2 separate regions of the Homo sapiens genome follow, and region 1 is linked to region 2. The links come from fine-mapping of genetic effects on gene expression. A gene starts in region 2. The other region holds a variant in brackets. All regions are shown on one strand. Distances are between the middles of the regions.

What was found. PIP is the estimated chance that this variant, and not a neighbour inherited with it, causes the effect.
Region 1: its variant is fine-mapped to the expression of CACUL1 in aorta (GTEx, PIP 0.92).

What each region holds. Positions count from the first base shown.
Region 1 is chr10:118,775,798-118,778,704 of GRCh38, forward strand. No RefSeq gene overlaps it. Among named protein-coding and RNA genes, the nearest start is that of CACUL1, 22 kb to the left of the region's middle. The variant G/A (reference allele first, on the strand shown) is at 1,302.
Region 2 is chr10:118,753,586-118,756,492 of GRCh38, forward strand. CACUL1 (CDK2 associated cullin domain 1) reads right to left here and starts at 1,385. Exons shown (of 9, transcript NM_153810.5): 1 at 811-1,385. The coding sequence starts at 1,177. RefSeq lists enhancers at 1,314-1,453, 1,452-1,746.

The sequences.
Region 1 (2,907 bases), 22 kb after region 2:
CCCTAACAACCACCAAACTGCTTTGTCTGTATGGATTGACCTATTCTGGATATTTCTTATAAAAGGAATCATTCAATATGTGGCCTTTTGTGCCTGATTTCTTTCATTTAACATACTTTCCAGGTTTATCCACGTTGTAGCATATATCAGCACTTCATTCCTTTTTATGGCTAAATAATATTCCATTGCATGACTAGACCACAATTTGTCTATCCAGTCATCCACTGACTGATACTTGAGCTCTTTTCATCTTTGAGCTGTTGTGAATAATGTTACACACATTTGTGTACAAGTACTTGTTTGAACACCTGTCTTCAATTCTTTGAGAATGGAAACCTAGAAATAGAATTGTTGGGTCAAGATGGTAATTCTGTTGAACTTTTTGAGGAATAGCCATACTATTTTCCACAGCATCAGCTTCCTTGGATTTTGGTGGGATCACGTGACTGAAAACCTGTTACTGCCGATTGCAAGTGAGCGGAGGGGATCTTTGTCACATTGGGGCACAATGCTTCCCACAGGCCTGGCCTAGGCATAGTTGACTGCAGAGGACTCCAGGGTTATACAGGAGGGAGGAGCCACAAGAAGGAAGGATGTACTTCCTGGATGAAGGCTGCCTGAACACAAATAGCCACATTTATGGTACAAACAAGAAATAAACATGTGTTAAGCCACTGAGGTTTTCAGGCTTTCTCAGCCACTGCACCTCATGTTATCTTAACTAATGCATCACTCAAGTGCCATCACTCAATTCCCAGCTTCCTGGTGGAGTTCCACATATGTGGTCCATTCCTGCATCTCAACTTGCCTGTATCAGAAACGATATTTGTCATTTCTATTTTTTTCCCCCATTATTTCTATTCTAGGCAGGGATATGTTGGTTGCAAGGATCAGAAACTATTCAAACTAACTGAAGCAGAAGGCAGGGTTTATTATAAGACTACCGAGATCTCATGAATGCTGGAGGTAGAAAAACAAAATACCTCCAAGCCTCCTGCAAACGATCAGAGGCATAGCAAAGGGAAGTGAAGGGCAGAGAAGATGCATGTCCCTGAGTGCCAGTCAATGGGGATGCCACAAAGATAGAGGAGCGAACTTTCACCATTTTGGTTTTTGCATTGAGTTCCTATCTTTAGCTATGTTGAATATGAAACCTCTGGTTTGTTAGGTGTTTCGTATTAGCTTCCAGGAAAATTCTGGTCCCCGGACTCCATTTATCTCTCCACCCTAGGACAAGGATCCTTATCTCTTACCATAGAGAGCCAAAGCAAGTACTACTGTTACAGAAACATCAGGGGCTC[G/A]GTCTAGGTCCTGCTGCTTGCCACACAGAAAGCCAATCATTGAGATGACAGAAGAAGGCTTTAATCGGGTGCTGCAGCCAAGGAGATAGGAGGAGCTCAGGCTCAAATCCATCTCCCAGACCAACCAAAACTAGTGGTTTATACAGCAAGGAATAAATGTAACAATGTGTAAGAAAACAGGAACTAGGTGGGGAAGGAAGCAATCATGATGAACGAAGGGCCTGGAGTCTTTTTGTCTGGATGGGGTGATCTGGTGAGTTTCAGTTCTTTGATACTTTTTTTTTTTGAGACAGAGTCTCACTCTGTTGCCCAGGCTGGAGTGCAGTGGCACAATCTCGGCTCACTGCAACCTCCGCCTTCTGGGTTTAAGCTATTCTTCTGCCTCAGTCTCCTGAGTAGTTTGGATTACAGGCGCCCGCCACCACACCTGGCTAATTTTTTTGTATTTTTAGTAGAGACGGGGTTTCACCATGTTGGCCAGGCTGGTCTTGAATTCCTGACCTCAAGTGATCCACCTGCCTCGGCCTCCCAAAGTGCCGGGATTATAGGCGTGAGCCACCGCGCCTGGCCTGATACTTTTTTTGAGAGGCCTGAAGGTCATTTCCTGAGGAAGGAACTCAGATAAAACAAATGTAAGTTTCAAGCTTTAAGACCAGAAGGGTCCATTTCTATGTGTGTATATATATATATTTATTTTTTTTAAATGATCTATGGGACATTGGGTCGGTTTCACTATCTCCACCTCCCCATCCAGGGCCCACGTGGTCTCTGGTCTCTGCTTCTCTCCTGCAACTGTTCCACACTCCGGATCTAGACCATTATCTTCTGCCTGCTTCTCCTTTCCTGCACTCTACTCCCCACCGGAGATGGCCCAGCCCTTACATCTGAACATCCAGACCTCACTGGCTTCTTTCTGTCCTCTGAAATCTTAAGTTGTGCATGCTCCACTCCTATTTGTCACCTGGAATTTATTGCCTTGTATGGCTGGTTCCTTCCTTAGTGCATGTCTCTCATCTCAGGGCACAGGGCAGGGCCACAGTTTGATGCCCAGGTCAGAACCTGGTTCTACCATATGTCACCTTGTGATCTCAAACAAGTTATTTAATATCTCTGAGCCTTGGTTTCCTCATCTATAAAATGCATAGAATAATCAATGTACTAATTGTGTTTTTAAAAAATAAAAATAAAATGGGTAGAATAATGGTACTCACTGTTCTCACAAGGATTTTTTTTTTTTTAAAGATAATGCAGGTAAAGTGCTTAATAGAGTACCTGATACACAGTAAGAGCTCCCAGTACCAATGGTTCCAACTCTCTCCTCAGTCTAGCAGGGGCTTAGTGAGTAGCAGATGTGATGATTGAGTCAGTCAGTGGTTCTTAGACTTCCAGATGATCAGACTCAGATGAGGAGTTTGGGGAAAGATTCCTGCCTCTTCCCCCTATGCAACTGGGTCAGAATCCCAGAGTTGGGTTTGGGAATCTGAGATTCTAATTATCAGCCAGCTTTGACACCTGCAACTGGGTCAGAATCCCAGGGTTGGGTTTGGGAATCTGAGATTCTTATTACCAGCCAGCTTTGACACACTCAGGGAGACTCTACCAGGCT
Region 2 (2,907 bases):
CATATATCCTGGTCAGAGGCAGTTTCGGATTACAAAACAGATTTTGGTCTTAAATCTTAATGCGTGCAATTGAGCGTTAAGACAGACTACTAACATAAAGTTCAACATGCAACCCAATCTTGGGTTTGGACACAAGACATAACCCATCCTGAAAGGCTTATTCTTATGAGTGTAAGCTCTGAAAAGTGATTTTATGCATTATTAGCTTCAAGACGATGTCGGAGCTGCCACTGCATCGGAAAGCAACTCATTATTTCCCTAGCAGGATGCAAAAGTGTAACACAGTAGAGAAGGAACAAGGTGTAGATATAGGTCAACTTTCAAATTCCTTACTTGTTTAACACAGCCTGGCCAAAAACACAAGAACACAAGTTGCCAGATTTCTTTTCTCTCTCTGGCTGCAGAAGACTGAAGGCCTTTCCCTAACGAGACTCAGGCAGCCTTATTTTCCCCTCACTTTGAGGGTGAAACTTCAAGAGAAGACGGGTGCGAAAAGAGCTTCCCAATGTTGAGAGACTGCCAGTTGTGATAGGGATCGCACTGACCGAACTTGGGGCTCCGTGTGTACCAGGCTGCCTCTCTAGGCCAGGTAATACAAGAAGCCAGGGCCGCTCAGGCGCTGGCCGCAGACACCAAATGAGGGGGAGGGGACGGTGAGGGGGAAGGAGGCAGGGAGGCGAAGGCGGACGGGGAGAAGAGGAAAGACCGAGGCCTGAAACAAAGGAAGCGGAGCTTTCTCCAAGAGGGGGTGGATTCGGCGTCCGAGTGAGGTGGAGAAAAGCCAAGGCTGCAGGGAAAGGCTGGACTCACAGAACTTGGAGGTGGAGGTGTTGATGTTGATGGTGGAGCTGGCGGTGGGGGCGGGGGCCGCCTTGGCCACGGCGGCGGCCGCGTCGCAGCTCTTCAACATCATGATCACCCCATTAGCCTCCGGCGGTGGCTGCGGCCCCATCGGGAGCCCCTCCTTGGGGCCTTTCCTGTCCACGGAGACCGCGGGCACCGCCAGCAGCTGCCCCCCCGGAGGCTCTCGGGCAGGGGCCGGGATCGACGAGGGGGGCGGCGGAGGTGGCAGGGGCTGCCGGAAGCCGTCCACCGCAGCCTCCCAGTTGTTGTGGTTCTGGTCGTCCATCATCGCCTCGTAGCTGCCCCCCTCCTCCTCTTCCATGCTTTCCTCCATCCTGCTGGCCCCCGGCACCCGCCCGCCTCACAGGCACCTGCCGCCTGTCTCAACCCCGGGCCAGCGGGCACCGCTGCCTCCCCGAGTTACATCGCCGGCGGCAGGAATGGGCGCAGCGGAGAGGGCTGCGGTGCGCAGGGTCTCTCGCTCTCCGCGGGGCCGACTAGCTTGAAGACGCGGCTGACGGCGGTGGGCGCTCCGGGGCTCTAGTCTGGGAGAGGCAGCCGTAAAGCAGCGGCGCTCCTCACGACGTTTTACAGCGGCTTCCAACAGGCAGTTGGAAAGGGCAGCTGGGGGCGCGGCCAGGAGGGCACGTGGTGCGAGGGACTGGCCGCGAGAAAGCGGAGCCAAAAGGGGCGGGAGCTGTGAGTCACTCCCACGCAACAGGGCAGAGGTTCGCCCCGCCTCGGCTGGCAGGGAGCTAACAGGGGAGGCGCGACGGGTCGGGACGGGCATTCGCCGGCCCCGCCCCCTGCCCGGCCTCACGTGACAAAGGTGTGTCTTGCGCACGCGCGTTCGCAATCTGGTTACCATGACGACGAGGCCCTCGCCGGTTCCTGAGGACGCGCGCGGAGCAGTCTTGGCAGTAGCTGTGGACTGGCCAGAGTGATTGGAGGTGTTTTCCTCGCGTCCTCCAAGTCTACGGGGCCTTCGCACCTCTGAGTGCCTGAGAGCCCCGGCTTTTGCTTGGGACGGAGGTACGGGACCACAAGAGGCCCCGGGGTCGCAGGTTATAAACGGATGAGACCGCCCTGGGCGGCCCGTGGTCCGACTGCTCTTGGGTCGGTCCCCAGCCGTCGCGACACACACGCACAAAATCGAGAATAAAAACCGAATCACACATAGCAGGATGGCGCAAAAAAGAAATGCGTTTGAGTTACTCATGTGTTTTTAAAATTCCTTTACGTTTGTATGCACTAAGGCCAGCAACCCAACTTTTAAAAATGCCGGCTCAGGCCGGGCGCGGTGGCTTACTCCTGTAATCCCAGCACTTTGGGAGGCTGAGGCGGGCGGATCACGAGGTCAGGAAATCGACACTATTCTGGCTAACACGGGAAACCCCGTTTCTACTAAAAATACAAAAAAGTTAGCCGGGCGTGGTGGCACGTGCCTGTTGTCCCAGCTAGCTGCTCGGGAGGCTGAGGCAGAATTGCTTGAACCCGGGAGGCAGAGGTTGCAGTGAGCCGAAATCGCGCCACTGCACTCCAGCCTGGGCAACAGAGCGAGACTCCATCTCAAAAAAAAAAAAAAAATGCGAGCTGGGCGCAGTGGCTCACGCCTGTAATTCAACCACTTGAGGAGACAGAGATGGGAGGCCCGCTTGTGCCCAGGAATTCGAGACCAGCCAGACCAGCATAACAAGACCACGCCTCTAAAAACAAAATTAGCCTGGCATGGTGGCGTGTGCCTGTGGTCCCAGCTACTCTGGAGGCTTAGGTGGATCACTTGAGCCCTGGAGGTCAAGGCTGCAGTGAGCCGAGATCGCGCAACTGCACTCCAGCCTGGGTGACAGAGTGAGACTGTCTCCAAAAAAAAAAAGAGAATTAAGTGGTATGCTGAAGGGGAAAACATAAAACCTTAGAATTACATGTGTGGCAAAAAGAGAGGCAGAAGGAAGGCAAATTCTGTTTCAAACAACTAATGGTTTATCATCAACAGACTCTAGGTAGATGGCTGGGTGAGTGCGATGGGATAAAGAAGGGTCTTTACATTTAAAAAAAAAGTCCAAT